4 separate regions of the Homo sapiens genome follow, and regions 1, 3 and 4 are each linked to region 2. Evidence: fine-mapped expression QTL. A gene starts in region 2. Each other region holds a variant in brackets. All regions are shown on one strand. Distances are between the middles of the regions.

Region 1 (8,145 bases), 150 kb after region 2:
TTTTACCAAACATTTAAGGAAGAAATCATACCAATTCTCTATCAGAAGATAGAAGCAGAGGGAATATTTTCTAACTCATTCTATGAACCATTCTCTATATACCAACACTAGACAAAGACATTACAAAAAAAGAAAACTGCAGACCAGTATCTTTATAAGTGCAGATGTGAAAATCATCAACAACATATGTAAAAAGCCTACAGCTAACATCATACTTAATGATGAGAAACTTGAAGCTTTCCTGCTTTTCTGCTAAGAAAAGAAATAAGGCAAGGATGTCTCCTTTCACCATTGCTTTTCAGCATTATACATAGAAGCCCAAGCTAATGCAATAAGACAAGAAAATAAAAAGCATATAGATTAAGAAGGAATAAATAAAAGTGTCCTTGTTCACAGATGAACACATAAAATGGGAACTCACTTATTACCACAAGGACAGAACCAAGCTATTCATGAAGGATCTGCCTCCATGACCCAAACACCTCTCATAGGCCACATCTCCAACAGGGGAGGTCACATTTCAACATGAGATGAGATGGGACAGAACCTCCAAATCGTATTAATGACAGTGGCTTTTTAGATATAGCACCAAAGGTATAATCCACAAAAGAAAAAGTGCATAATCTGGACTCCATTAAAATGTAAAACTTCTGCTAATGGTCTGAGCAGAGTGTGTAGAGTTGCTGAGCCCACACACTAAATCTGAAAATGACACCAGATTGACAAAGGTCACACCAAGGAAAATGTGTGCTGTTCCTCTTCTCTGTGTACTTTTTTGTTCATTGAAAATACCTGCTCAACACAGAGAAAACTATCACTTAGGTTCTCAAAACCTGAAGCCACACTTCTGCAGCTTCAGCTATCCAGAGGAACAAATGCCCCATCAATAAAAGTACTGACTTTTTCCCATAGGATGAAAAACCAAAACCAAAAACACTGATGAAGGTGATAGCCCAGGCCTTCCACTCCATTATTAGGCTTATTTGTACCTTTGTCCATTCAACCAGCTTCAAAGGAGGAGGTGTGCAGCTTGTCTTCAGGTTTATGCTCTATCCAAGTTCTTTTTTTTTTAATTTTTTTAATTATACTTTAAGTTTTAGGGTACATGTGCACAACGTGCAGGTTAGTTACGTATGTATACATGTGCCATGTTGGTGTACTGCGCCCAGTAACTTGTCATTTAACATTAGGTATATCTCCAAATGCTACCCCTACCCCCTCCCCTCACCCCACAACAGGCCCCAGTGTGTGATGTTCCCCTTCCTGTGTCCATGTGTTCTCATTGTTCAATTCCCACCTATGAGTGAGAACATGCGGTGTTTGGTTTTTTGTCCTTGCGATAGTTTGCTGAGAATGATGGTTTCCAGCTTCATCCATGTCCCTACAAAGGACATGAACTCATCATTTTTATGGCTGCATAGTATTCCACGGTGTATATGTGCCTTTTCTTAATCCAGTCTATCATTGTTGGACATTTGGGTTGGTTCCAAGTCTTTGCTATTGTGAATAGTGCCACAATAAACATATGTGTGTGTGTGTGTCTTTATAGCTGCATGATTTATAATCCTTTGGGTATATACCCAGTAATGGGATGGCTGGGTCAAATGGTATTTCTAGTTCTAGATCCCTGAGGAATCGCCACACTGACTTCCACAATGGTTGAACTAGTTTACAATCCCACCAACAGTGTAAAAGTGTTCCTATTTCTCCACATCCTCTCCAGCACCTGTTGTTTCCTGACTTTTTAATGATCGCCATTCTAACTGGTGTGAGATGGTATCTCATTGTGGTTTTGATTTTCATTTCTCCAATGGCCAGTGATGATGAGCACTTTTTCATGTGTCTTTTGGCTGCATAAATGTCTTCTTTTGAGAAGTGTCTGTTCATATCCTTTGCCCACTTTTTGATGGGGTTGTTTTTTTCTTGTAAATTCAATGTGCCAGACTCTATATGAGGTGCTGGGGATACATTGGTGGGCAAAAGATGGCACAGTTCCTGCTATCATAGAGCTTATAGTAGAACTAGACAAGAATAGAATAGTCAGAGAAATAAAGTTAAAACTGTGAAGTACTTGGGAGAATAAGTGCATGGTGCTGTGTGTAGATGTGGTTGGTGAGGTGAGGAAAGTCTTCTCCAGGATGGTCTAGATCTCCTGACCTCGTGATCCGCCCGCCTCGGCCTCCAAAAGTGCTGGGATTACAGGCGTGAGCCACTGCACCTGGCGGGCAAGAGATTCTTGAATTGAGATCTGTAAGATTGGTCATAGGTAACCAAGTATGTATGAGAACAGGAAAGAACTGGGGAGAAGAGAAAGGGATGTTCAAAAAGAGGAAATAGCAGGATGAAGCAGGAAGAAGCATGGCATCCAAAAGAAGACCAGGATAGCTGGAGTGCAGATGAGCCTGGAAAGTAGGGCTTTGTAGAGCAGGTTAGGGGTTTTGACTTTATCCTAAGAGCAATGGGGAACCTTGAAGAGTTGGGGTTTCTGAGGAGGGAGGAGAGTGTGTTGACATAATTATATTTGTGTTTATTTTTTAAAACATTTTTCTGGCTGCAATGTGGAAAACACATTGGAGAAAAGCAATCTATGGAGTTCAAAAAAAAAAAACAAAAAAACAAGGCATCTATGGAGTCCAGAGTGGGAGGCTGCAGTGGTCCAAACAAGAGTTGATGGTGACACTGGAGTAAAAAAGGGGACAGAGAGAAAGAGGTGTATTTGAGAAGAACTTGTGACGAAAGTCAACAGGACTTCATGTTGGAATGGATATGGGAGCCAACAGGGGGTGAGCTGTTGAAGATGACTTCTGGGTTTTCAACTGGTACAGCTGGGTAGACAGTGGTGGCATTCACTGAGAAAAGACGAGTTCTGTAAAGATAGGGCATGAGTGTAATTTTAGACATGCTGAGTTCAAAGTGCCTTAACATATCCAAGTAGAAAATTTCAGTGAGCAATTAAATATATAGGTCTGGTGTTCAGAGGAAATATCTGAGCTGGAAATACAAATTTGTGAGCCTTTTTAATATAGATAGGACTTGAATTTGTGAGTGGAGATGAGATAGAGAAAGAAAACAAAATTGAGAGAAGAGGCTCTATAGCTGAACACCGAGGAAATTTAAAGTCTTAGTAGAGAAAGATGAAAGAGCAGAAAGACGTAGAAGAAGCCATTAGAGAGATATGAGGAAAATCAGTAGAATGTGGTGTTCCAAAAGCCAGAGAAAACAGTATTTCAGGAGGCAGGGAGTGCCAAATGTGGCTGAGAAGATAAGGAAGAGAGAGACTGGAAAATAATCATTGAATATAGAAACACGGAGGAAATTGAGAACTTTACAAAGCGCTATAAAGTGAAGACACTTAAGCATGTTTTAACTCACAGGAAAGGTCTACTTGTTTGTGAAAAGGAGAATATACAAGTATAAGAGAGAGGAAAGTCTATCTGAATGTGGTAGGACTGGGTTCTCCAGCCCTGGTGGAGAGACTGGCATGAGACCAAAAGAGTCTCGTGTGGGTTAAGACAGAAGGAACATTGATAGGATAGGAGGATGGGTTTGTATATTTAATGGTGGGAAGTCAAAGAGTTCCTGTAAGATGACTTCCAGAGGCAAAGCCATCTGTTGAGATTTCAGGGTTTCAAGAGAGTAGAAGCCTGAACTGTTGTGAAATCTAGCAGGCAATGTGCTAAGGAAACACAACAGGATTACCAAGCATTTCATTTGATATTAGTGAATTGAGAGCCCATTTGACATTAGTGACTAGAAATTTATTTTGACGAATCAATCATTTTCATTTTTTTCATTCCTTTAGCAAATGTTTATTGGGTGGCCTTAGGTGCCAGACACTCTTATAGGCGCTATACTGAGTGTTGTGGAATTCTAGCAGGACACAGAGAAGGTCAGTAATTTGGTTCACACAGTGATGGAATTTTAGCAAATATGTGGTTCAGAAAGGCAGAGAGCAAAGCATTGGCAGAGTATAAGTGGTAATGAGCTGAGGATTCTAAGCAGTTTAGGAAGGAAGTGGGTAGAGAACAATTAGGAGCCAACGCCCAAAAGCACTAGAAGCATATTTGACTTCTTTAAAAATATAACCCTATGTCACTCTTTTAAATCAAGAGTGCTATCTCTTGGTTTAAAAGAATATTTGATCCTAGCAAATTGTGTCATTCTAAATAACAGAGAGGGAAATTCTCTAACAGAAAATGATATTTATTCAGAAATGGGCATTGCAATAGGAATATGGGTGCCATTGTAAACTATGTGTGTATTCAGGGAGGTAAAGGAAGACAAAGGTCTTGTAAGAAAAAAATGAGGAGGATTACATAATAGTTTTGAGATAATTATCCTTGGCTACAAGGATAAGTAACAAAGGTGGTGTCAGTCCAAGTTTGGAAAGGCAATTGCTGGGCAGATGTCCTCAAAGAAGTGTTTTCTGTGTAAGGTTGTGATGGCCTTTGTGTGAAGTTGTAGTTTTTGCAGAATTTTTTGTGGTAGTTTTGTTATCAAGAACTTGTGCGTGAGAATCCTCCCTTTATGGCCTTCCCAAGCACTGTTTTTCAGCTGTTTTTGGTTTTGTTTTTTTCTTGTTGACACAAGTGACTCTATTTTGATTCTGATAACTTTCACATTTCCCCCCTTTTGATCAA[G/T]ATCTTTTTCTGAAAGTATCACCATTCAATCATCCTGTAGTTAGATTTTCATTGTCCCTTGGTGCCAGGATGTGTCCCAGATTGTTGGTCTGGTCCCATATCAGAAGACGTGATTGGTGAGTAGGAATCTGTGTCAAAAGCGTTCTAGCCACATTTGAGCAACAAGGGAGGCTTGGAGGAAATGGCTCTCAGGCTAAGTCTACCTGGAATTTATTGCTATGTTCAGTTTTGTCTATTCCATAGTATTTTGGCCACAATCTCAAAGCACTGGGCCAGCATTATTCTGTTAGGAGTTGTACTTCTGCAGAAATTTAACAAGCAACAGGTACAAGTTTTAAAAACAAAAATATAAAATAAAATTAATAGTAATATGGTAAATCCAAGTTTGTATAATGGTTTTGAGCCATGAATCCAGTCTTAAAGACAAACAATTGAATAAAGCAAATGACCATTGAGAATTAGATGACATCTGTTGTTACTGTGTGACCCATTTAAAAAATTCTGTGGATATGGGCCTCAACTTCCCCAGAGGAATTTACCCAAGTATAACATGTAGTATTAGTGGAAGCGTAGACTTTTTTTTATTTAAACAATAGATACCTAAGAGGTCATGTTCTTTTAAGTTATGAGCAGAAGCTGCTGATTGTGAAATCTGAATTACATCATTATCTTGCCAAAGAAAAAGGTAAGCATAAGAAAGGAAAAATTAAGAGGGGCAAGAGTCTCATTTTGATGGAGTGTCTTGGGAAACGCTGCCTATAGCATGAAGCCATCAACTTCTCTTGGCTTGCAGTTTGAATTCTCTGCTATGGTATCAGGTGGATTGGTGAACTTTCTGTGTGGCACAAGACTTGTCCTTCTTTTTTCGGGTATGAGACTTGTCTCTTGAAATTTATATCAAGTTGTCTAGCTTCATCTTCTAAGGCGGCAAGCACAGAGCAGTTTTTGCTCTTAGTTGGAGAGTTGCAGCCAAATATTGAAGAAAATTAGGAGAATTCAGGTTCTGATCAGATCTACAGGTAGAAGAGAAGAACTTGAAAACAATGCACAGGGGCACAGCCTAATAATAGGTGTATTATAGTTTTTTTCTTTAGAAACATAACATTCTCTCTATAGTCATCCTTATTTTTACCAAAGATAATCACAGTAAGACTAATTTGTTTGTAAAATATGTTTAGTTTTATCAAATTTTGCCAGCAAGAATAGTGATTTGACCATACGGTAATCTCAAACTTAAAAACTTCTTGAGGGTAGGAAGCCAAACCAAAGCTGACTTCAGACTTTATCTGTAGTACCTATAAACAATTTAAATATGACAATTTAGTCAAAACTTTTGTGATAAAACCAATGTTTCCACTTGTATCCCATAATAAAGAGAACAGATTCTTATCAAACTTAAGTAAACAATCATATTGTCATGAATAGTTTTCCCATTTTGGAGGGATCAGGTAGGAAGAAAAAGTAAATGCTTTCATTTTTGTTCACAAATGTTTACTTTACCAAGCAGCTGTAAACTATAGATGGCTTAAGACAAAAAGTTTTCTTCAATCTGGAAAACAAAACATTGAGGAAAAGAACCAGCAATGTTTCAAATAAATAGGCTATAAAATTTTTTATCAGTTCATTTAATTTCATGTAATTAATTCTTTTCCTGCTTGAGCTTGATTATTAGTTTCATAAATTTATTAGTTTCTTCATTAGAGTTCTGAAAATTTTTATTTAGTACATAATTTTTATTTATTTTATTATCTAATAACTTTGATCTTAAAGTTATTAGAAACTTATATTTAAGACTACTTCTTAGAGTCTTTTCCATGAATCTGATTGAGTATGTCTTTAGAAAAGAACTCAAACCAGTAACCGTGGATGACAAAAAGATAGAAAACAACCGTGGCTTAAAATCTGATGAAATCAGAAAAATAGAGTGCAAAGCATAAATAAATAAATAAATAAATAAATAAATAAATAAATAAATAAAATTTGATGAAAGTTCATGATAACCAGAAATTGACAAGGAAATTTGGTTACTTTGCGGCATACAACATAATAAGAATTCTGACTGATATATTAGATTTCTAAGAGTTTTATATGATCTTGGAACATTCATATCAATAACATACTCATAAATGTAACTGAAAAAAGATCTAGCATCACTTATCGTTTGACAATGCTTCCCATACAATTTACTAAGTAAACCTAATCATTTAATATCTCTATAAGTTGAGAGATACAGTCTTTGAGGCTCTCCAGGGCCCAACTGGAAAAATCACAAAATTAGTTTTAGGTCAGAAAGATTAAACTTAGAACTTGACCCTAGGGAAAACTTTCAAAAACTGTCAAGAGGCTGAAAACACTTGATCAAAATTAGATTACAGAAAGACTTCAAAAACAATACAGAAAGTTCCATGGATATAAAACAAACCAACAAAAATCCTTAACCTTTCCAAAGCTCAGTTTTCCTAAATAATCAAAAAACATAATAAAGACAATGTGAAGCACAGGAACTTACAAAAATCTTCATCTTAGGCCAATTACCAAAAGGGGGAAAGAAAGAAAAAGCTTCCTGCAATATAATTGCTTCTTACTGGAAGCCCGTTTAAATAACCTGGAAGTCTAACCTGATGAAAAACTACTTGAATTTAATCAGACACAAGAAGAGTGGGTCCAGTGGTATGAGTTTACATCATATCATAGAAGAAGTAAACAAGAAAACTAGTACCTTGAGCAGAGGAATACATGGCTCTTTAAAAAAGTGAAAACATGAAATTGCCTGGTTAGATGGAACAATTCAAACATATCAAGAAAAACCAAGATTGCAGAATCAAGATATACTGGAGGGGAACATTGCTTTTCTAGGGCTTCAAGACAAACATTTGAGCATCAGGTCATAACAGCAGAGCTTGAAGTAGAGAAAAAAGTTTCAGGAGCTGACGAAAAAGTTGAAGGAGCGAGTTATCAACCTAGCCAAGCAAAAAGATGTATCCTCTCAAGGAGGGACAGGAAGAGCAGAAGGCAGTGTTGTATGACCTCAAATCCTGTGCTGCAAGATACAGCAAAAATTGTACTTCTGAGATATGAATCTGAAAAGCTTCAAGAGGAAAACTTTACCTCAAGAAATGAAATTACCATCCTAAATGAAGAACATAGCACTTTTAATTTGAAACTAGGGAAAGTAAATAGACTGTAAAACAGAGGCTGGGCATGGTGGCTCACGCCTGTAATCCCAGCACTTTGGGAGGCTGAAGCCAGGGGATCACAGGGTGAAGAGACCGAGACCATCGTGGCCTACATGGTGAAACCCCATCTCCATTAAAAATATAAAAATTAGCTTGGCATGGTGGCGTACACCTGCAGTCCCAGCTACTCAGGAGGCTGAGGCAGGAGAATCGTTTGAACCCGGAAGGCAGAAGTTGCAGTGAGCCAAGATGGCGCCAGCACTCCAGCCTGGTGACAGAGCAAGACTCTGTCTCAAAAAAAAAAAAAAAAGAAGCTGCAGTTTAGAAGA
Region 2 (8,145 bases):
CTGGAATTTCACCTTCTCAATGAGGCCTTCCCTGACCACTCTGTATAAAACTGAAGCCAGCCTTCTAGTTCTCCTTACCCTCCTCTACTTTTCCTTTTCCCATGGTATTTATCACCATCTAACAACAATTTCATATACTTGTTTATTATATCTGTTGCAAATTATCTCCTGCTCCTAGATAAATGCTCCATGCATGTGTTTTATTCACCTACGCGCCTGACAGCACAGCAGTGCCAGCGATGCCTGGCACACAGGAGATGCACAAGAAATATCTGTTGACTGAATGAATTATCATAAAACACTATTTTCATTGTGACTCGTAAATCATGTATTTATACACCATTATATTTCTAGACATTACGAAGACATTGCTTGAGCTAGATTTTCTCAGCACCTAAACATACTCCTACATGGTAAATCAGGAATCTCTATATATGGCATTTACTCTTTCAAGCCATCATGGTGTAATTTTTAAAGACTTCAACATATTTGTTTTTTAAAATAGAAAGTTTACTTTTTCCTGCTAGGGTACCTTTCTAAATTTCTTTGGCTGAGTCCTAAGCATTCTATAGATACAGCTATAGATATTTTATTCCTCCATTCATCTGTACCTATCATGACTCAGGGAAACATTCCCACCAAGAGTCTGAAGGATGCCTAGCCCTTTGGAAGTCCTAGTCATCATCCCAATGGTTATTCCTTTTTCTTTTCTTTTTTTTTTTTTTTTTTTTTTTTTGGAGCGGAGTCTTGCTCTGTCGCACAGGCTGGAGTGCAGTGGCGCCATCTCGGCTCACTGCAAGCTCCGCCTCCCGGGTTCACGCCATTCTCCTGCCTCAGCCTCCCGAGTAGCTGGGACTACAGGTGCTCGCTACCACTCCCGGCTAATTTTTTGTATTTTTAGTAGAGACGGGTTTTCACCGTGTTAGCCAGAATGGTCTTGATCTCCTGACCTCGTGATCCTCCCTCCTCGGCCTCCCAAAGTGCTGAGATTACAGGCGTGAGCCACCGTGCCCGGCCCCTAATGGTTATTCTTACTCCCATTTCCTCAGCTGCTTCCACAGAACAGACCTGGAGCCTCTGCCCCCTTGTTTCAAATCAACAACTCTGATTTTCGTCATCAGTTATCACTAACTGATATGTTCTTGTTTATGTCCTTCTTTGTATTTTTTAATCACTATGTGATGTTGTCTATGCATTTTTATTTGCTTATTGTTCATCTGCACTTCTTACACACACTCTTCATAGAATTTAAGTTCCTTGACAGCAAGGATCATGTCTGTTATTCACTGCTATATCTCAGAACCTAGCACCCTCTCTCAAGACGTGATGACAAGAGAGTCTATCCGAAGACATCCGACATGCAGTAACCATTTTGATTCATTATAGCTTGCAGGAAAGCATTCCCAAATAAACAAAGGGCCAAGGGCCATGAGCCTTCTATATACCCACACATAGAATTTCATCACAGGGAATGAGAGGCCAGCTTTCCCACAGCAAGGATGTATTTAGTGTTCCTTGTCCTTTCTCTTTCCTCTCTTTTGAACCATTAGCTTGGCTTTTAAGCATTATATCTCTCTCATGTAGCCCCTCCCTACAAAGCCACAACTTCCTTTGCAAAAGTAATTATGAACATCTTCCTCTTTCACGCATCTCTCTCCACCCTGGCACACACCAAAATACACTAATTGTCTCTGCATAAGGCTACTTGAAAACTTGCCGTATCACCATTTACTACATTTTTCAGGCTATCTACAATTTTTAGTGCAGTGCAGTCTTTCTTATCCATTCTCTTTTTACAAGCAAGTTGCCAACACTTGTCCGGTAACACTAAAGTACACTTAGAATTATGCATTTCTTCAAGGGAAGACAGGTGAGCCATGCTCTGCCAGATTCTTGTCTGCAAAGGATGACCTTGAAAAGTCCTGGAGAAACTGGCCTTTTCATTCCTGCGTGTTCACCTCCACTGTGCCTGCTCACAAAGGAAGCCTTAATGCCACGGACCATTGTACTTTTCAAGCATCATTGCATAGGGAAGAGACACTGCCTTCACTACTGCCATAGCCAATCTTAAATAAGCTAAAGAAATACTAGAAGTTGGGACTGTAAGTGAAATGGCATATTCTAAGGGCAAAAACCAATTTCCATGGAACTGAAATACCTGCCTCGTTTAAGGCAACCATATGACACACGGGTTCACAAGTGCTAAAAGTTCATTTACTCCCTCAGGTAAAACAAAGCTGCAGCTGTAGTTAAGGCTTGAGCTGCAGTTGTTTCCGGAACAAGAAATAGAACCAAGAAAAGATCTGCAAAGAAGCACTTGAAATGGACATTCAGACTCTATAGTTTTTTAAAGCAGTGGCAGCGTTGCTTCTTTCTCCAGCCAGACCCCAGATACCAGTGCCTACCAAAGTGTCCTCTCTCACACACCCTCCTACAGTGTTAGGCTTTGTGGGAAGTTAGAGATCATATTCTCCGGGGGCAAGGACTATCTCCCAAATAGGCAATGTGAAGACATCTTAGCAGGGAATTGAGTCATCTTGGGAGCTAGGAGGAAGATGGGTTACACCTTAACAATGGTCTGCAGCAGGAAGATCCATTAACCATTATGCCTTAGCGCACCCACTCATACTCACTCATATTCCCCCAGGGGTGCTCTGATACGACACTGTCCACGGACTGCACACTCTTCAGGTCTAATTAATGATGCCCACCCTCCCCACCTACTAAACACATTTGCAATTTAAGCATCTCTAGCTCTCCACTACCACCCACCTTTCTCCTCCACTGTCCCTTCTTCTCCATGGAGATAATTAACTAGTTGACTACTTATTAGTCCTTCAGTTGATTAGGATTTCAGGCTCACACTAAGGCCTTATCCTAAAGTCTATAAAGATTTGTGACACCGACAGGGTAAAAATTCGAAACCAGCTAGCAAAACTTTCCTGAAGGATAGAGATACTCAAGATCTAAAAATTATCTGAAGGGTTGGATTCCACACCATGAATCCCCTTTTCCCCCTTCCCCACAGCTCCCTATAGTGAAAGATCCGTAACCTTAGGAATAAATGATAAATCCTGTGACTATTAGGTTTTTCCTGGGAGTTCCTCGGAGACCCGGAGGTAACCGTGTATGTGCGTGCGAGTGTGTCTGTGTGCGTACAAGGTCCGGAGAAGCGAAACGGTCGCAGGTTCCTACAGACCCCGACCCTGTTCCCTTGGCCACCTGGTCCCCGGTAGCTGCATCCCTGGGCGGCGCACGCAGTGAAGCGTCGCGCTCTGGCGCCGGTGCCGCACCGAGGGGTATGACTACGACCCCTTGCGCGTGCCCGCCCCCACCTCCGCACCTCGCGCCAGCCCGCGCAGCGTGACCGGCAGCCGCCGCAGACCCGGCTCGGGGAGGCGCGGAGCGCGGCGCGCTGAACCGGAGAGGCGGGCCGGCTGCTGCCTTGCGTTCGCCACGCTGTCCTCCCTCCTCCGCTCCCTGCGCCCCACCCCTGGCGGCCGCGCTGCCTGGCAGCCCGGGAAGCCGCGGCACAGCTGCTCGGCGCCTGCAGCTCCGGCTCGGGGGCTGGAACCGAAGCGGGGGCGGCGGGAGCGCGGAGACCACAGCCCCCGGGGAGAGGCGGAGGGGGTCCCTGGCCTGGGCGGAGAGGCTGAGCTGAGTGCGCGTGAGAAAGAGGGCTGCACCGCTGCTCGGCGCGGACTCTGCCAGCCCCAGCTTCAGCCCCGGCTCAGGTCGCCGCAGCCCGGGAGCCTCCCCGCTTGCGCCCCAAGGCACGCGCGGCACAGCCATGAACACCAACGATGCCAAGGAGTATCTGGCCCGGAGGGAAATCCCTCAGCTTTTTGAGGTAGGGCTAGAGCTGGCCGACGGGCGGTAGCATCCGGGGACTGCATCTCAGGGGTTCGGGTTGAGGCAGCCGCGCCCCGTCCCACCTTCCCCACACGGGGCATGTAATGAAGGGGCTTGTAGAAGCGCACTCGCCCGCTCCCCCGAGGGTAGTCGCCTTTCCCGCGGGTTGCCAGGGTCCTTGTCAGAAGGCTGGGCTTAGAAGCCTGCATCTCACAGATCAAGTTTCAGTCTTCCAGCAGGGTTCTGAAAGCAGCCTGCTCCCATCGCGCCCCTCGGATGTGGACACCCAGGGTGGGCTGCAGACCGCGGCCGGGCCGCACTCTCTGGGGGCGAGGGCCAGGTCAGGTGGCTGCACTGTCGCCCAGCAGCGAGTAAAGACTCGAAACTGAGGGAGCCAGAGCCCTAGTCACTCTGCTGGTCGAGGGTCGGAACCCCTGGGGGAAAGAGGAAATGTGGACGAAGGCAGCCCTTCCTGGAGACAGCTTGGAAGAGAGGGATGAAGATGCAAAAAGCAAAACCCAACCTATCAAGTGCCACCTCCCCGGTGACAGGCCCCCAGCCTTGCTCTGCGCTTTCGCTGAATGAACTCCTGAGCACGTTTTTCCCGTTGCCTAGGAAGGGTTGGGCCGCAGGTTTCGCCAGTGCTCGACAACCCACCTGGAGATAGCGGGTCGGGGAGGGAGCTGCGAGGGGGGCGGACTCCTGTTGCTCAGTCTTCAGACCGCAGCACAGCATCATCTGCACCGGGACCCGGGAATGGGGGGACACTTGGAGACTGAGAGAGAGGAGGCTCGAGGAATGAACCTTGGTCTGTTCTAAGCCACAACCCCTGTCTCAGGTCGTTTGGCTTCCTTTCCTTCTCTTTGTATTTGAATTTAAAAACATTCCTGAATCTCAAGTGCTTTTGCTTGAAGTAGGGGGGAGGAGGAGAAAAGAATAGAAGCAAGCCAGGCTTCCTAAGCGAGCTCTGAAAGGAGAAATCCATTCACTGCAAACCTCGTTCCCCATTTCTGAAAACGGATAGACTGATATCGTAAACTAAAGGTCATGAGGGTTTTTCCCCCCGGTTTGGGGGATTTGTTCTGTTAAAAGGAATTTTAAAGCACCACTTGAGAAAATAATTTTGCCTCAGTTTCCCTAAACTATCTTTAAAATGGGTTGCCATAATTACAGGTCTTCTTTTCTCTCACCTCTATAAGCCACCGTTTTCAGGTCATCTGAAGTCAAGATTTCCAGGTAAACCACTCACTGAACTCAAGCGTGGTATGTGAAGCCCAAATCTAGCAAATGTGTTACTCCTGCGTGAAAATAATTAGGTGGTGTTGCATAAGGACAGGTCTTGAGAATATGTGGGAATCTTAAGAGTTGTTTTTTTTGTTTGTTTTTATTTTCAAAAAGTAAATATGGAAATTAAGAGGCGAAGGTTTTTCTCACAAAGATTACTACTGAGATATATTTCATTTCTACGCTTCTAAAAGAATCATTAAAAACATCTGTAGGAGGACCACGTGATTGCAAAAATTCCTACATAGTACATCTTTTTTTCTTTGTAAATGTGGGTACTGTTTTTCCTCCTTGGTGGAAGGTAACCACAGAGAAGTTTGATAGTTTATTAAAATCTACACTGTGCATGCAAATAAGTTATGGCAGGCCTTTTTGTTAAGGTTTTATGTTTCTTATTTACTTTTCTGCATATGAATGGGATAAATAATGCACACCCAGAAAAGGAAGTCAACTTGCTTGGGTGAAATACAGTAATGGACTTAGATTCACTTGTGGACAATGAGAAGATGGAAGTAGACTGCTGGTGACCTCAAAGGCTACATCCTTCAGTAAGACGAATCTGTGCTATGCGCAGCTCAAGAGGGAAGGAAAATCTGGCAGTTCTCCATGTGATTAGTGTAGACTGTAAAACTAAAAACTTTAGGTTTTTAAAATGGATTTTGCCCACCACAATATTTTAGGTGTACAAAGTTTAACAATTAGCTGTCTACTAAACACCAAGACATTGGCCCCAGCTGTGGATTTTAGACGCTATTACAGACAAACTGACTGATTATTGTATTGACGTATTGTCAGACAAGTAAATATATCTAACTGACCTTTTCAGATTTTTTCCTAATTTGAGACATCATGTAAGCTAAATGGAATATGGGATATCTCTGGTACGTTCATGTTTGAAATGTGTTTCCAGTTTTAGACTTTTTTAAACCCACTTTCTTATTATTTTGTCATGAGTTCTTAATTCTGGCTAACCTTATGGTGTGTATATTGATCTTGTAGCTTACAGCAGAGATTTGGCAATCAATTTGAATACTGTGGAAAGTCAGATTATTCAAGGTCTCAAAGGGTTCACTCAGAGACTGAGCAATAATATGTGCTGGTTGTCTTCAATCCCTGATAGTGGCTGGCTATTAGAAGAAAAGATTTGAATTATCCGTGAAGGAATGGAGCTCATTGTCCCATTTTAAAATCAATGCCCTTTGGTGAACCAGTATTGTTTAAGGACGCTGGAAATGTATATTTTCAGAAAAGAGTCATTGAGAGTGTTCACCCATTTCAGGCAATAGTAGGGATAAAAAGAGGGCATTTTGCAGAGGGCACAGAGAATCTCATGTTTTCTTTTATCTCATATCACGTTTCTGCAACAGGTACAGAGAAGAACATATGGGTTTTGGAATTGGAAACATTGAATTGAAATCCTGGGCCTAGGAGTTTCTAGTTGAGTAAACTAGAGCCATCACTAATATCTCTGAGCCATGATTTCCTAATCTATAAAATGGGGATAATAAAGTCACACAGGGCTGAGAATGCACTGGGTATGCAAATAAATATATGACACAGAGGCTTTTATTTATTAATGAGGCTAATACTGGCTTGGCGTATGGGAAGAATGTGAGAAGCTCAACTGCAATGTGTGTGTATATGGGACAGATTTTGACAAACAAACTGAATTGGATGCCCGGGTAATTTTTTCTGCTCCCTCTGCAATTGAACTTGGCTGATGGAGGTGCACACTCTAGCTTACTCTATTTAGGATTTCAGAAAACAAATGTACCTAGTGAGAATTGCCTACCATTCTGAGGAAATTACACAGGAAATAATTGAAAATAAAATACTGTATTTAAACAGATGTCAGCCCTTCAAAGGGTGTTTTGTATACTAACAATGTATATTGGTAAGAATAATCCTTTATGCATTTTCCATGAAATACTCTAAAGGAAAATATTTTGCACATCAGTCCAGCTTCCAGGAATCAGCATTTCCAAACTGGTAGCATTTTTAGAATCTAGTGCCAGTGACACATCAGACACCATGAACCAAAAAAGTAATAGCAGGATCATGCTTTGTTTCTTTTCCCCTCTGGAATCTCAGTGGATATCGTAGTGACTTACTCTATGTCAAATAGTAATTTTTTTTTTTAGTCTCAGACCTAAATTTTTTTGAGTCTCAGTTAGACTTGAGCTTTGAGGGATTTTTTTTTTCCAATTGGAAAACAGTTAAATATGCACCTACCAAATGCCAGGGAAAGCATCAGTATCTGGGGATTGAAAAATGAATTAGACTCACTCTGTGTTGTTGAAGAGCTTATAGTTTAGAAGAAAGACTATTGCATAACCGAATGGTTTCAGTATAAATGACAAGTATGATGTTTTATGCTGGATACCATGGGAACACAGAAGAAGGGGTTCACAGACAAACCTAGGGATTCAGAGAAGACTTCCTGATAGTAATAATAACTAAAACCAACAAAGTTTATTGGGCACTTACTATGTGCCAAGCATTTAATATGCACTGTACAAATATGAAATTATTTAATTCTTAAAAAACTCTATGAGGTATTTATTATTACCCCCATTTTCTAAAAGAAGAAACTGAGGTTTAGAGACATAAAGGGTGGGTAGGAGTGAGATAAATAATGACCAGGGGCATTTTCACATGCTGCATTTTATCTCACTGTGATGAAGTGAATGGCTCTTCCATTTTAAACTATCTAGTTGCCTGAATTGCTTAAGAGGCAGAGAATGCTGAACTGAAAACTAATTAGGCAAGAATTTAAGGGATTATCTTAATGACTCCATCAGATCGTAATTTCAACTCTAATTGTTTATTAAAAGACAAATGCAAAGGACAAAAACAATCAGAATTCAAAGATGAGCCATAATACTATTTTAACAAAGGTGGGTGGGGTCACGTGCAGTGGCTCATGCCTGTAATCCCAACACTTTGGAAGGCGGAGGTAGGTGGATCGCTTGAGTTAAGGAGTTCGAAACCAACCTGGCCAACATGGTG
Region 3 (8,000 bases), 110 kb before region 2:
TGTTCTTTCTCCATATATTACTCAGCACCAACTGAAAATAAAACACCCAAAAATTATATAACTCAATTAAAATATATTCATTTAAACATATACCTCCAAGTAACTTTGTTACTATTTTTAAAAGTACTAAAAACTAACAAAGAAGGCAGGCCATGGTGGCTCATGCCTATCAACTCAGCACTTTGTGAGGCAAGGCAAGAGGACTGCTTGTGGGCAGGAGTTCAAGATCAGCCTAAGCAACATAGTGAGACCCCATTTCTATGCACACACACAAAAAATGTTTAAAATAGCCAGGTATGGTAACATGCTCCTGTAGTTCTAGCTACTCAGAAGGCTGAGGCAGAAGGCTCATTTGAGCCCAGGAGTTCACCACTGCACTCCAGCCTGGGCAAGAGAGCAAGACTATGTCTCTTAGAAAAAAACAAAAAACAAAAACAAGCAAAGTAAAACTACCTTGGAGAAAAATAAGTTCTGAATTTAAAACTTTAAATGCTATGTGAAGTGCTGCCTTTAAAAACTACTAAAAAGCTGCAAAATTATTTATCTGGCTGGGCATGATGGCTCACACCTGTAATTCCAACTTCTCAGGAGGCTGAGGCAGGAGGATCACCTGAGGCCAAGTGTTCAAAAACAGCCTGGACAACCTAGTAAGACCCCCATCTCTGGAAAAATAAAATAAATTAGCCAGGCAAGGTGGTGCACACCTGTAGTCCCTGCTACTCAGGAGGCTGAGGCAGGAGGATCACTTGAGCCCAGGAGTTCAAGGCTGCAGTGAGCTATGACATGGCCACTATACTCCTACCTGGGTGACAGAGCAAGACTCCAGCTCTAGCAAAATAAAAAATAAAAATTATTAATCCCTCTGCATAGGCAATTCTGTGGGAAGATACAAAATATAAGAATTTTTAAATAAATTCAACTACATTATTGCAGCTAATCTGTACAACTACTTAGTCAATTATAGATTAACCATGAAATAAAATAGTTCCATGTTCACTACCTGGGTGACAGGCTCAATCATACCCCAAACCTCAGCATCACACAATATACCTTTGTAACAAACCTGCACATATATCCCCTGAATTTAAAATAAAGGTTGAAAAAGAAAAAAAAAAAGTTCCATATATATTTCCCCAAAATTACGTATCTTTAATTTTTGAATGCACTTTGTTGCTCAGATTTTGTTAGTGGTATCTTTAACATGTAAAAAATTCATAACACTTTAAACGAGATTTTCCCAATCTAGAATTTCTATCCCTCTGGGATTCTTTGAAGGCATATTTAAAGTTATAGAGAGTAAAACACTGATTTAAAGCCAACAGCTGAGTCATATATTATGCATATCTACATTTAAAAAGTAGAAAATCTATCCAGTTTTCTTGTTCAACTATTTCCTAGAACATGAGTGTATAAATTGTATGTATACACATTTGTGCGTGTGTAAACTGTTTGATTTACATTTTTCCTGCAAGACAGCAAAATGCTAATTGTTTTAACAGGAATTCTTGTTGGCCAACAAGGAAGGAAAATGTTTGGCCTATATTTTCCTAAAATATGACTAAATAAACAAGTAAAAGGTTAAACATACATATTTAATTCAATGAGCCAACATTTTTGAGTGCCTAACACCAGGCTCTAGGTACTTGCCAGCTATATGATACATGAGACACAGGCCCTCTTAGCTTACAGTCTAGGAGGAGATAGATATGCTTTTAAAATTGCTTCAAAAGTGGTCTAGGAACACACAGGAAATTGTGTCTTACTTTTGGTAGGCTTGGTAAAAGGGGAAGGATTATCTAAGAAGACTTCATAAAAGAAGACTTCAAATATTAAGCGTATTCACAATCTTTTATATTTAAAATGAAGTTTCAAAGGGAGAAAATAGAGTATAATACCATTTTTTACATTTACATTTTTATTTCTTATCACATATTCATAAAAAACACTGGAAGTATATTGAAACTATAGTCACTATAGTTTTTCCACAATTAATACAATTACTAAAACTAATAAACTTGGAATTTTAGGTCAAATATGAAAAATACACATTTACTATAAAATATATTTACTGTAAAAGAAAGTTGACACAGGAAAACTCACTATAATACTCTAACATTGAAGCCAATATAAAGTTTTTCTGTCCTAGATAAAAACATAAAATGTTCATGTTTTAATATTTTACTTATATATCATTGCCTTAATATGAACTTCAGAGAAGTTACATCAAGGCTTCAGTGACAATTAAATTTAAAGAAAAATAATAAGACAATTTTATTCTGCCATTGTTTTAGAGCCTAAAAGTAACAATGCCATTTTAAAAATGTGGCTAGATTAAAGAATTTACCTCGTAACTTCTATAATCCACTTCCACATCATCTCCATACACATTTAGTTCCATATTCTTGTGACTAAACACTGTAGCTGGTTTGGGATTTCTAGGATTACAGGCCATATCATCTGCAAGCATTAGGACAATGTGACTAGGGAAAAAAAATCCAGTAAATATATAATTTAGATAAAAGGAAAAAGTTAAACACAAATTTATTTATATCATGTAGCTACTGTGTTCATTTTTCTCCTCCTTAAAAAAAAATTTTCAACTACATAGTTGAAGGCAATTTAATTATTTTTTTCATATCCTTGTGTACTATATATTTTAAAGTAGAGAAATTAGTGCAATCTGGCATAAAGTTATGAAGGCACTTTAATTATTTTTTTCATATCCTTGTGTGCGATACATTTTAAAGTAGAGAAATTGGCGCAATCTGGCATAAACTTATGAACAGAATTTCAAGTTACAATGTTTTTCTGAACAATGTATACTTTATGCCACATAGCAAAGGGAAGCTAAAGAAACTGTCTTCCTTAAGCATCAAAAATATTTTTTAGTAAAATTTTACATTCTCAAGACTTACAGAGTCCACGTTAAACTATGATGTCCCAAAGAATTTAACTTTCAGAATCCCAAATGCTTGAGTATAAAAACATGCAACTGATCAGCAAGTACAATCAGTTTAGCACAAGAGCACACCTCCAAGCCAATCACTCCTCACAAGATCCACAAATCCACTCCATTTCCCTAACACCAGCAACCACCATCTTCTGGCTAGATGCTGGAATAGCTCCCTACCTGGCATCCTGCTTCTACTCTCACCCTCTTTCAGTTCATTCTCCTAATAGCCCCCAGAGTGATCTTCCTTAAATAAGTCAAATTATTAAATGTTCCCACTTAAAAGTTTCCAAGGACTCCCCATTATATCTTTTTTTATTTTTATTTTTGTTCACCTGCAGTTCCATGCATCCCCATTGCATTTAGAGAGAAACTGCAACTCCTTACATCATCTAAAAGGCTCATATAATCTGGTCTCTGTCTCTCCAACTTCAGCCTCTACCACCCACATTCTCTATGCTACCTCCACACTGGCCTTTCTGTTCTTAGAATATGCCAAGCCTTTCCCACTTAAGTGGCTACTGACCAAATTTAGACTTCACTCCTCCCAGATCTTCATATAATTCCAGCCTTAGCTATGGTACTCTATCTTATTGTGTGTTTTATTTTCTTCAGGACATCTATGAATCTGAAATCCCCATCATCTCCTATCACCACCACCCCCATTAGGATATAAGCTCTCTGAGGGCAGGGGCTATATCTGTCCTGTTCACCACTGTATCACTCATACTACATACTAGGGCCTGACATACAGTATGTACTCAGTAAATAATTTTAAGTGAATGAAATGTTTTAATTTTTGCATATAATTTCTTTAGAAGGAAATAAAATCTCTCTTTGATACTTCTCATCTTCACTCTACCATTAAAACTGGTGAGTAACAATCAGGAAATTCTCCATTCTACCATATCTTGAGTTTCCCAAGCATAAGGGAAAAATTAATGTGGCATACGTAATTAGTTTGGCAGGAGACAGCAAGAAGAAAATGTTCTGCTACATATGTTCCAAATACATTAAAGTTCAAAACTGAAACATTATTTTTCTTGAAAATTGGCTAGATTTCTACTTTGAAAGTGTTCCAACCCTGTCACGTTCAAAGATCAGATCTTCAGCTGTTACTGATTCATTTTCACAGAATAGTGAGTCATTCCTCTTAAAACAGAAAATACATCTTCTCTTTTTTAAAACTTGAGATCATTAATTTACATTAAATAAATATCAATCATATATTCCTTTGTTAAACAAGACTGAATTGACCTCCAAATGGCAATATAAAAATGAATATTTCTGGCCAGGCACAGTGGCTCACGCCTGTAATCCCAGCACTTTGGGAGGCTGAGGCGGGCGGATCACGAGGTCAGGAGATCGAGACCATCCTGGTTAACACAGTGAAACCCTGTCTCTACTAAAAATACAAAAAAATTAGCCGGGCATGGTGGCAGGCGCCTGTAGTCCCAGCTACTCCAGAGGCTGAGGCAGGA[G/A]AATGGCATGAACCCAGGAGGCGGAGCTCGCAGTGAGCCGACATCGCGTCACTGCACTCCAGCCTGGGCAACAGAGCAAGACTCCACCTCAAAAAAAAAAAAAAAAAAAAAAAAAAAGAATATTTCTTTAGGCTATGTTTTCTGTTTAGGGTTAATTTCACTCTGTGAAACTAAATAATTATTCAATAGCTATATAATGTCAATATCAATCAGAAAGAAGTACTAACTTCAACTTAAAATCATAAATGTAATCAACATTTCTCTTAGAGATAATTTTAAGCCTCAATATAAGTACTATGACCTGTTAACATAATCAATATATTATAAAACACTGTACTTGGAATAATACGGAAAAAGAGAAGTTGGGAAACAGAATGGATTTCAAACGTTTTGAAGTCCAACCACATATTCTAATTCACTGTTTCTAAAACTTAAGAAATGTACAGAACTCTTTTCTAGAGAAAAAAATAATTCTCATTTGATCCAAGTGTTAAATTATTTATATAACAGTACTTAAGCATATAAATGCAAACAAACTACGTAGGCTTATAGTTCTTACAAAACTATGAAATCAAGAGAAAATTATAAATTAAATTCTAACAAAACTAGCAAACTAATAATACCCTAAAAACATTAATCCCATTGAAGATGACATTATTTTCCAAAAACTAAATGCCTGCTGCTGTGTTTAACAGAAGAGCTTCAAGTCTGGTTCTACATTTAATTTTTTTTTTTTTTTTTTTTGTATTTTGACATCCTTAATTGTTTAAGCAAACTAAAACGGCCTGATAAGGACTCCATACTTCCATATTTGAGTCCTGGTGGACAAACCACAACCTAACTTAATAGGTAGACAAGATTGAAAACCCAATTTAGGAGTATGCACCTGTAACAATGACTGAGTCTTGGCCAATCCCAGCAGCCATACTTCAACCACCCATATACTGCCAAGTGCTCAAACTGTGTTCAAATAAGTAAAATGCCAACCTGTAACCAATCCAGTTGTTTCTGTATCTCACTTCCAATTTCTGTACCTCACTTCGCTTTTTTTGTCTCTAATCTTCTTCCGCCATGTGGCTGCATTGGAGTCTCTCTGAATCTGCTGTGATTCTGGGGGCTTGCCAATTAGTGAATTGACAGCAACTGACCTGGGTGCAGGATCAAATTTGATCCAGTAATTAACTGACTTGAATCCAGTTAGAGGCTTCTTACATCTGAATGGGTCAGAAAGAAACTGGTAGTAAGTGGTAATATTGCAGGGGCTATAAAATTTGGCTTTTAAAAATTCGCAGGGGCCAGGGGTGGTGTGGCTCACACCTGTAATGCCAGCATGTTGGGAGGTGGAGGAGGGTGGATCACGAGGTCAGGAGATTGAGACCATCCTGGCTAACACGGTGAAACCCCGTCTCTACAAAAAATACAAAAAAATTAGCCGGGCGTGATGGCAGGTGCCTGTACTCCCAGCTACTCGGGAGGCTGAGGAAAGAGAATGGCATGAACCTGGGAGGTGGAGATTGCAATGAGCCGAGATCACGCCACTGCACTCCAGCCTGGGCGACAGAGCGAGACTCCGCCTCAGAAAAAAATAATAATAATAATAAATTTGCAGGGATTTTTGTGTTCTACCCCTTTGTTTCATTTTTCTCGTGCACTTAGGTAGGAAAAGAAATCATTGGCTAAGTTAATCAAGGGAACCCAAGAGCAAAGCCAATATTTTTGGTAAAAATGAGATTCTTAATTTCTGAAGAACTGAGTTCCTTCTGGCTTATACATGCATAAATAAGTGTTAGGCCCCAGAAGCAGTGAAGTCTTACAGAAATGGTGAGATCTTACTAAAGATAACTTACAATAGAACATTCCAAATGAACAACGCAGTGAAATGCATTTAAAACAATGAGGCTCCCAAATTAGTCTCATCTACGGATGCCTACTGATATGCAGAAACTTCTAAAAAGATTTCAATATTTTTATTTAAAGCACACATATTTTACTCTGGCCAGAATGGAAAATATTAGAATTCGGGTCCCCCATACAACTGGTTGGGCAGCAACTTGCAAAATTGAGATAATTTTGCCTGTGGTTCCATTATTTTCCTTTGTGATGCAGTTTGGCCCCCAGAACTATGGTGTGGTAAGCAGGGTCACTGAGGCTACTCAGGGAAGGGGAACCCAGAAACCTGACAAGCCAGCAAAAGGGCAAGAATTTCTTACCAGACTTCTGGCCTCTCTCTGTGCAAACTGGTTAAATGAATGGTAAAAATCACTGTTTAGTTCCTCTGTAAAGTTTTAATTAATGCAAAAAAAGGATTCTGAGGCTATTCTTAAGCTGTAGCAAATTTGGTGTCCTTGTCTTTCTGTATGGTTCTGTTATAAAGAGTACTTTAGGAATATAACATAGGCTTAGGACCCCATAAGCTCACTATTAAAGACGGCCCAGCAAGCTGGTCAATAACAAACGTTGCTGCAGTTCCCTGAAACAAACAAAAAAACTGCCTGAGGTCTCCATCTTGTTTTGTCCTTGGGAGCTTAACTGTGTAATCATGTGGTGGTACTTTCTCTTAGTCTCCACCTTCCAGGGAAAAGGAATTTTGGGGTTCATGTCATAGCTAGCTCCGAAAATTATCTTGAGCAGTTAAAAGCCTTTGCAAACTCAAAATTGACTGCTCTAGACTTCTAGGAAGAGCAATGGAAGCTATCCAATATAGCTCAGTAGCTAAGGCCTTGCCTTTTTACAATGGTGGCCTGAGTTCAATTCCTGGCTTAGGGAACGAGTCCTTTCTGGTTTGATATCTGTATGAAACTTACCATCTGTTGATTCTCTTCCCCTCCATAAACTGTATTACAATTTTCTTTCTCTAAGCGAGAAATATTGGCTGTTTTGCCTGGCTAAAGTGGGGTAGTAAGAAATTTAAAAGGACTTTTATAGAGGGCTAGAGTTAAAAGTCAGCTTAATTAAAAGTGGATATTCAAGCTCTAACAGCCTGGGACTCCTTGGGAAAAGCAGAGGAGGCACCACACACCGTGTTTTGGGAAAAACCTCTGTTTTCCTCAAGAAACCTCAGGAATTAAAAGTGGATAGATCCCTCTCAAAATCTAAGACTCTGTTCTGTTTTGTATTGCTTTATCTGATGTTTCCGACTTTGGGGAGTATCGGAAATGACTTTGCATCACAAGACAGCTTTGGTGTGTAATAATCAGGTAGGAAATATACTTTTAGGGATAGCTAATGGCAGTTATGGGGAGATACTCAGCTCTGCACATTTGGATCAGAGAAAGCATGCTCTTGGCCACCTAGAAGTTATGGAAATGTCCCCACCCACCACTAAGAGATAAGACACCCATGGGAGCTTGGCTGATTCCCCCTTTATGGGATCCAGGATCTGATATAAAAATGAGAATGAGACCCTTAATTTCTGAGATCTATTTTTCCTTCCAGCTGTGCCTGCTTATTATATTAATCTGTAGAAACTGCATGTTCCTGGCCCTGTTCCTCCAAGGACTCCACTCTAAAGCCAGTAATCCGATTAAAAACCTTAAAAACTGGCAAATAAAAAATCTTACAACTACTGG
Region 4 (8,145 bases), 220 kb after region 2:
TAAGAGCTGTAACGCTCACTGCGAAGGTCTGCGGCTTCACTCCTGAAGTCCCCGAGACCATGAACCCACCGGGAGGAACAAACAACTCTGGATGTGCCACCTTTAAGAGCTGTAACACTCACTGCAAAGGTCTGCGTCTTCACTCCTGAAGTCAAGCAAGACCACAAACCCACCGGAAGGAAGAAACTCCGGACACATCCGAACATGTGAAGGAACAAACTCCGGACACACCATCTTCATGAACTGTAACAGTCACCACGAGGGTCCGTGGCTTCATTCTTGAAGTCAGTGAGACCAAGAACCCACTGGAAGGAACCAATTCCAGAGACAGAAGTGCCATGCAAAGAGAAGGAATTTGCAGAAGAAATAGAGTTTGAGAGACAGATGAGTTTAGTTTTAAACTTTTTTGTTTGTTGTTGTCAGCCTTTCTCACCCAGGCTGAAGTGCAGTGGTGCAATCATGGCTCACTGCAACCCCGACTTCCCAAGTTCAGGTGATCCTCCCACCTCGGCCCCCGGAGTAGCTGAGACTACAGGCACGCACCACCACGCCCGGCTTATTTGGTAGAGTATTTTGTATTTTCACCATGTTGCCCAGGCTGGTTTTGAACTCTTGGGCTCAAGCCATCCACCTGCCTTGGCCTCCCAAAGCACTGGGATTACAGGCATGAGCCACTGCACCTGGCCAGTTTTAAACATCTTAAGATTGAGATGCTTATGAGATATCCAAGCAGTGATGTACATTAAACAAGAGATTTTTCACAGCTGACACCAAAAATACAAGTTCTGGCTATAGACACAGATGTGAAGCCATGTGTGTGCAAGAAGTCACCCAGTGAACTTAGGGAGGGTGAGGCTGGAAGAGAGCTAAGACCTGAAACCTTCCCAAGAGCCCTGCCAGAGCCAGAGGAGAAGAGCACAGGGAGGAAAGGGGGATATCTAGAGCAAATGGCATCACAGCAGGCAAGGGAGGAAAATTTTCTTCTGGGAAAGGTTCACTAAAGTATAATGAAAATTGTCTGTGGGGTTTGGCAACAGGTGAGTTATTGGTGACTGGTGACAGCAGTTCCAGAGGAATGGGAAGGGGTAAAGCCAGACGGTTACGGGTGACTAGGAAGTAAGTAAATGGGGATCTGTACAGACAACACTTTCAAGAAAGTTGACTCTGAAAGAGTCTGAAAGAGACTGTTTAAAGCAAAGTGAATATTCAGGGTGGAATATTTTTAAAACGAGAGACTCAAGGTCATTTTTATAAAGAGGGAGGCATTACAGGCTCTAGTCAAAAGCAACACTACATGAGTTCGAATGTCGGCTCCTACATGTACAGCTGTGTGACCTTGGGCATCATCCTTCCACTCACTGTTCCTCAGTTTCTTCACCTGTCATGTGGAAGTATTGATTGTGTCTAGGTCATGGGGTTGATGGGAGAGTGAAATGAGTTAGCACATGCAGCAGGGCTCCTAGTGAATACAAACATTACCTGTCACTGTAGGTACTCTATGCAGAGTGAAGGGAGACATCCAATGAGAGGGAGAGAGTCTTGAGAAAAGGAGGATGAGGATGGGTTCAGAAGTGAATTGGAACAAGGAAAGGAACAAGATGAGGAAACCATAACAGAAGTTTAGAGGTTAAATTCCTGTTTGTTTCCTCAATGTTTCTTCCTCAACATTTCTTGTTAAAATTAAACACTCCCTAAGGGACTGAGCTGTTAAGTGGTGTTTCACCTACAACCAGCTGTAGTTGGCTGAGATCAATCAGTTGAAATGAGAATGTGTCTCTGAAGCCCTGGGCTTAAACTTGCCTATATGCTGCCATTTCCTCTAGCTGACACATTCTTGCAGTTGTCAACAACCCAGCCCTGTAGGAGACCATTTTACCATAGGAGATCATTTTTTGCCTTGAAGAATGAAGCAGAGTAACAAGCCAGTGATTAAGGAGTCAGTGACTATTTTGGCCCTCCAAATGTAACACTCACAAAGTATTTCCTTTCCAACTTGCTCCAGGCTCCTCTGAACCAGGAGTCTGAGTGTTTTCTTAGCTGCAAATGAAAACATATTTAAACCAACCTTCAGGTGGTTAAGGCAAAAAAGGACTCTTTCCTCTTGTAACAGAGTGTAGCTGTTTTGCTTTACTGTGACATGTTACTGCGACTCAGGTGATATTTTTTCTCATATTTGTCTGGGGCACTGACTCTGAAGATGTTCCTCCTGGTTCTGCCAGGCTGCAGGGAATCCCTTCAACTAGGAAGTGGATCACGCGTTACTGCCACGCATCCACCCATCACCACCGGCCCAGCGACCTTGGTGTAAAGTGCATTGAACCTATTTGGGCCAGTTGCGTATGACCCTGTTTGGACTATTGTAGTCAATGCAGGGAAAGCTGGTGGGGAAGAGCCACAAGCAGAACACCCTGGTTTTTTTGGAAGTCCTCAGCATGGTCTGGGTGGAGCTGTTGAGGCAAGCACTGAGACTGCCTCTCATTCCAACATCTGCTGTTGAGAAAGGAAGAGAATGTTCAGCAGTGAGAAACCTGGCCGAGGCCAGCCATCAGACTCCTAGAGAGACCCCTTGGGAACCTCTTCAGAGGACGATTTGCTAGAAGGCCAGTGATAGCCAGTTGATTGGAAGGTGACCTTTACTAAATCTCCTAGATGACAGAGACCATGCCCTTTTTCCATTTTTTTTTTTTTTTTTTTTTTTTTTTTTTTGGTTTGCTTCTGCAGCACCTATCAGGATGCCTGGCATTTAGTAGGCATTCAGTATATGTCTTTAGAATGAATGAATGGAAAATGATGAAAGCTCAGATTAAGTTACTTCCCCCCAAGTTCCTCAAACTCAGGTGTGACTAATACAGACCCATTATCAGAAGCAAATGTACTAATCTGTCTTCCAGTAATAACCATCTCAGAGCCATAATGATAAGAGCAGAGGCTTGAGGTAAAACAATGAGGCATGGCTATTTTTAAGAACTAACCATAACTAAGAAACTCTTCCTCTGGTCCTGAAGGATCAATGCGGAGTCTTTATAAAGTCTTTATGGCCCCTTCCCACAAAATAAATAAAACCAAAAAAAGAGATACAGCTTTTGGTAAATTTGGCTTAGTAAAGTAGCACACGGTTTCCGTATTAGACTCAGGTTTTAGTCCACCATTAGGTAGCTGGCACCATGAGGAAGCAAAGTCAAAATACAAAACAGATAACAGTTATATTGATGATACAGGTCCCAAATGTCACCATCCTT[CA/C]AAGAATGGAGTGTGTACTGGAGTTGATGTGTTGATAAAGTGTCCATTAAAGACAAAAGAAGGCAAGGCACGGTGGCTCACTCCTGTAATCCCAGCACTTTAGGAGGCCGAGGCAGGCAGATCACCTGAGGTCAGGAGTTCGAGATCAGCCTGAGTGAGCAACATGGTGAAACCCCGTCTCTACTAAAAATATTAAAAAATTAGCCAGGTGTGGTGGGTGCCTATAATCCCAGCTACTCGGGAGGCTGAGGCAGGAGAAACTCTTGAACCTAGGAGGCAGAGGTTGCAGTGAGCCGAGATTGCACCACTGCACTCCAGCCTGGGCAACAGAGCGAGACTCCATCTCACAAACAACAACAACAGCAACAAAAAAACAAGCAAAGGCTGAATTATCCATCGTTGTGATAAGTACAGTGAAGTTCGTTTTTTGTTTTGTTTTGTTTTTTTTTATGTTCCTACCCATCCCAGAACCTATAATCTGTTCAGTGAAGCCAGAATTCATGCTTATGAAAACTTCAGAGCCCATACAGCGCAGTGTAGAATTAACTGAAAAAGAACCATTCGGTGAAGGTTACCAGGGGTAAGAGGACAAAGAAACCACAATGGTTGGAGTCTCTTCCTAGAAAAGCTGAGAATCGAGGGGAGTCTCAAAGAATGGATGGGATTCCCTAAGTTTGAGAGAGGGCTGAGGAGAGAGGGATTGCAAGCAGGGAGATTCCAAGTTAGGAGCAAATCACAGCAGTAGGGCTATGCCCCTCGTAGCCCAGGAACGGGAAGGAGATGGGCCAAACCTTGAAAGGCCTAGATGCATGAATGTGATGTTGACTGAAGACCAGTCCAGAGCTGGTGAGCAGGGCAGGCAAGGAAACACCAGGAGGACAACTGCCCTCCACGAATTCTCCCATATACAGTCATGCATCACTTAACAACAGGGGTGCATTCTGAGGAATGCCTCATCAGGCAATTTCCTTGTTATGAGAGCATCCTAGTGTGTACTCACACAAACCTAGACAGTGTAGCCTACTATGCGCCTAGGCTACATGGTATAGCCTATTGCTCCCAGGCTGCAAACCCATACAGCATGTTACCATAACAAATAGTATAAATACATAATAACACCACGGTAAGTATTTGTGTATTTCAGCATAGAAAAGACACAGTAAAAATACAGTGTATTATAATATCATGGGACCATCCTTTATGCAGTTCATCATTGAGCGAAATGTTGTTATGCAGCCCTTCTCCTTTTACTTTTTTCTTTTAATACTGTCCATGAATGTAAGGGTGGAAGGATGCAAATATAGAAAAAGGTTTACATTTAAAGTAGGGCTCAGGTCAAACAAAATTAGAGCCCTTGTCTTCTAGTCTTCTCCAAAGAAGAAAGAATCCTGAACTAAAATATCAGCCCCAGCACTGCACAACATCACTAGATAGTGTAAAATCAGAGACTGTGCCTATTTCACTCACTCCTGTTTGGCAGGAGGAGCACAGAGCTCAAAGAGAGGTTAGTCTAGCTTAATTCCCTAATCAAGTCAAGAAGTGAGTCTTGAACATCACTGACAGATAACTATCTAGTCTTGACTTCAGTATTTTGAGTGTCAGGATATTCACTATCCTATTAATAATAGATGACTAATAACAATTGCCCCACTTGGAACTTTGAATCAGTTAGGATTTTGTTTGGCTGAAAGTTTTTAAAAAAATAACTGAAGTTAAACAAGGTAGAAATTTATTTTATGTAAATTTTAGGTACAAGCAGTCATAGCAGTGGTATGACATGCTATGGCCTCAGAGACTCAGGTTCCCTATATTTTTCTGCTCCTTTGAGTGGCTTCTCCAGAGTTATCTCATGTCCCAAATGGTTGCTGAAGCTCCAGCCCTTATGTCCTAAGCCCATTAAAAAGGAAAGAGGAAATGGGGCAGAAGAACTTGCTTCTTCCCTTTAAGGACCTGCCTGGAAGTTGCATTCACCAGTTCCACTAACATCTCATTGGTCAGGAGGACACTTTCACCTGCAAGGGAGGCTAATAAATGTAGTCCGTATTTCAGAGAGCCTTGTGCCCACAATAAAAATCATGAGGTTTAATTTTTTACAAAGAAGGAGAAAGTAGATAACATGTTTCTATGACAGAGTCTAATGTAGGCCTCCTCCTGGAAAATCCAGGAAAAGTGGATTTGGCTTTTAAAAAAAAAGTTTTGATTTTTAATCTTCCCTGGTAGGACCATGCTCACCAAAACAATAGGAAGAAGATGCTCATCTGTGGAGTGGCTGTTACCAACTATGTCCATGGCAGCAGCAGAGTTTAGCTGCACCTCCCAGAGGCCTACAGTTTACTCTCAAAGTGAGAACATAGCAAGTAGGCAGAAGCTGCACCCCTGCTTTTGAAGTCCTTCTTTTGGAGCTGCCCAACAATCCCTCTTGGACTACTCACCAAAGCCCCAGGAATGCCACCCCCTCTCACACCCTGCTGTGGTATAGGTGAACTCAGGTGGCACTGTCCTAGCCTTGAGCCCTAGTAGAAGACGCTGGCTGCATCCACTTGGTCTCCCCAGCAGAGGAGATGGTGTGTTTCTATTGGGCATCTGTTGTCCATAGGAAAGTCTTCCTAAGACTGCGTCAAAACCTGCTCTGTCAGAAATTCCAATATTTAGGCATTTCTGTCTGGTGTCCTAGGCTCTATATCTAGTACATAATTAAAATCACCTATCAGGTTTTTCACCAAAGATAAAAATTGCTGAGAGTTAACATTGTAACATGTAATTAAGACTACTAAAAACCATCAGTTTCACATGCCAGGCCTGTGAGGAAGTGAAATGTGCTTTTAGTAAAAGATTATAAGAAGATACGGGAATGTACATTTTTGCCTAGTTTAGAGGGCTAAAGGATTGTTTTAAATTAGATATGATAAACCTAAATGTTTGAGCAAGTTTTGGAAGGTTTGTGAAAAATTAATTGTAAAAGAGATTCTGTGTATGAACATATTGGCTAAATTTAAAGGGGTATTATTCAGTTTTTTCCATGCTTTTGGAATAAAGCACAACATGGTTTTCTTAGAGCATGGATCTGCTCTTTAACAAGAATTTGTAAAGGGTTATAAAAGGTTTATGAGAAGCTCACCTTATGGTTAAACTGATTAAGACTGGATAGATTTGTCTATAAGGTTTTATTAAAAATTGGGGTGGAGGCCGGGCACAGTGGCTCAAACCTATAATCCCAGCACTTTGGGAGGCCGAGGCAGACGGATCACCTGAGGTCAGGAGTTCGAGACCAGCCTAGCCAACATGGTGAAACCCTGTCTCTACTAAATATACCAAAAAAATGAGCCAGGTGTGGTGGCGGGCGCCTGCAATCCCAGCTACTCAGAAGGCTGAGGCAGGAGAATTGCTTGAACCCAGGAGGTGGAGGTTGCAGTGAGCCGAGATTGTGCCACTGTACTCCAGCCTGGGTGACAAGAGACTGTCTCAAAAAAAAAAGAAAAAAAAATGGGGTTGAAAAAAATTTTTCACTGTTTAGTCTAGTCCTGCCATACAGAGAAAATTAGCTTTCTCTCCACCCTGCCGATTCAAATATTTGAAGACATATACACTTTTCTTGTGATTTATGTCTTCATCCAATTAAAAACATGCAGCTTTTTCTGTTGTAAATTGCAGGTTCCTCAAGAGCAGAGTGCTATCTTCTTGTCTCTGTGTCCCCAGTCCTTACACTGCCTAGCGCATGTGGATTCCTCACATTTTCTTGTGGAATGAATGAATAAATTCTACTTTTATTATTTCCCCCTAAGTCATGTCTCTTTAGACACATGCAGCCCAAATCTCTCCTAAAACAGATTGGCGAGAACATTTTTAAATTTAAGGATTTCTTTTCTTTTTACAAAAAATAATACATCTTCATTCTAGAAAACGTGTATCAACAATAACAAAATCACAAACAGCCCAATACCTGGGAATGAATACTATTAGTATTTTGATTTATATTCCTCTTAGTTTTTTTCTGTGTATATATATATTTTTTTTAATATACATTTTTCATCAGAATGAGATCATATAATTTAAAAACCTACTTTTTATACTTAACAAAACCTCATGGGCATCTTTCCAAGATAGTATTCCTGAATATGCCATGTCATTTTTTAAAGTTCTTTTGTAATTCAACCGAAATACAAAAACAGAAAAGTGCACAAGTCTTAAGTATTCTGTTTGATGAAATTTCACTAATTGGACGCATGTGTCTTACCAAGATGAAGATCAGAAAATTGAACGTGACCAGAACCTCAGAAATCTCCCTTGTGTCTCCTCCTCATCACTACTCCCTGCAAGGACTACCATAGGCATTTTTTAACTTCCATAGATGGAATCACACTATATAACTGTATATATTATTTTCTAGCTGTCTTCTTTCAGCACATCATTTTAATGACTGCATCCTATTCCTTTATTTTGCTGTAATAGAATTTATTCAGTTTATACCTATGATTGTGTTGTCATAATACATTATTTTTTCAACTTTTGCTTTTATTAAAAATTCTGTAATGAATATCTGTGTCCTAAAACAGTGATTTTTTTCTCTTACGGTAAAATTCACAGATATGAATTAAACTTTTAAGATTTGTTTACTTATATTGCCAAATTGCCCTTCAAAACAGTTGTGCCCGTTTTATGTTCCCATCACAATGTGTAAGACTTCCAGTTTCCGTGATGTGGTCTAGAATTGAACATAAAACCTCAGATGTAATCCAGCTAACATTTGCCCTGAATGTCTCACTTCCCTTTACTGTGCACAAATAGACTGCAAGCACAGATAATCTCGAAGTTCTCTGACAAAGACAAAAGTTAGGGTGATAGTGCTGGAAATGACCTTGGAACAGTAAGATACTTATTTTCCATCAACAAGCTTATTTTCAGATG

The links. PIP is the estimated chance that this variant, and not a neighbour inherited with it, causes the effect.
Region 1: its variant is fine-mapped to the expression of AK5 in whole blood (INTERVAL, PIP 0.90).
Region 3: its variant is fine-mapped to the expression of AK5 in whole blood (TOPMed, PIP above 0.99).
Region 4: its variant is fine-mapped to the expression of AK5 in whole blood (INTERVAL, PIP above 0.99).

Annotation. Positions count from the first base shown.
Region 1 is chr1:77,427,535-77,435,679 of GRCh38, forward strand. All of the region lies in intron 8 of AK5 (adenylate kinase 5), which reads left to right. LOC124904202 (a long non-coding RNA gene) reads right to left here. Exons shown (of 2, transcript XR_007066178.1): 2 at 5,199-5,653. Among named protein-coding and RNA genes, the nearest start is that of AK5, 150 kb to the left of the region's middle. The variant G/T (reference allele first, on the strand shown) is at 4,641.
Region 2 is chr1:77,278,524-77,286,668 of GRCh38, forward strand. AK5 (adenylate kinase 5) reads left to right here and starts at 3,496. Exons shown (of 14, transcript NM_174858.3): 1 at 3,496-3,850. The coding sequence starts at 3,791. RefSeq lists a silencer at 3,356-3,415.
Region 3 is chr1:77,166,916-77,174,915 of GRCh38, forward strand. It overlaps PIGK (phosphatidylinositol glycan anchor biosynthesis class K), which reads right to left. Exons shown (of 11, transcript NM_005482.3): 4 at 2,345-2,480. Among named protein-coding and RNA genes, the nearest start is that of PIGK, 49 kb to the right of the region's middle. The variant G/A (reference allele first, on the strand shown) is at 4,432.
Region 4 is chr1:77,497,196-77,505,340 of GRCh38, forward strand. The region is part of intron 10 of AK5 (adenylate kinase 5); the gene reads left to right. Among named protein-coding and RNA genes, the nearest start is that of ZZZ3, 180 kb to the right of the region's middle. RefSeq lists an enhancer at 1-489. The variant CA/C (reference allele first, on the strand shown) is at 3,240.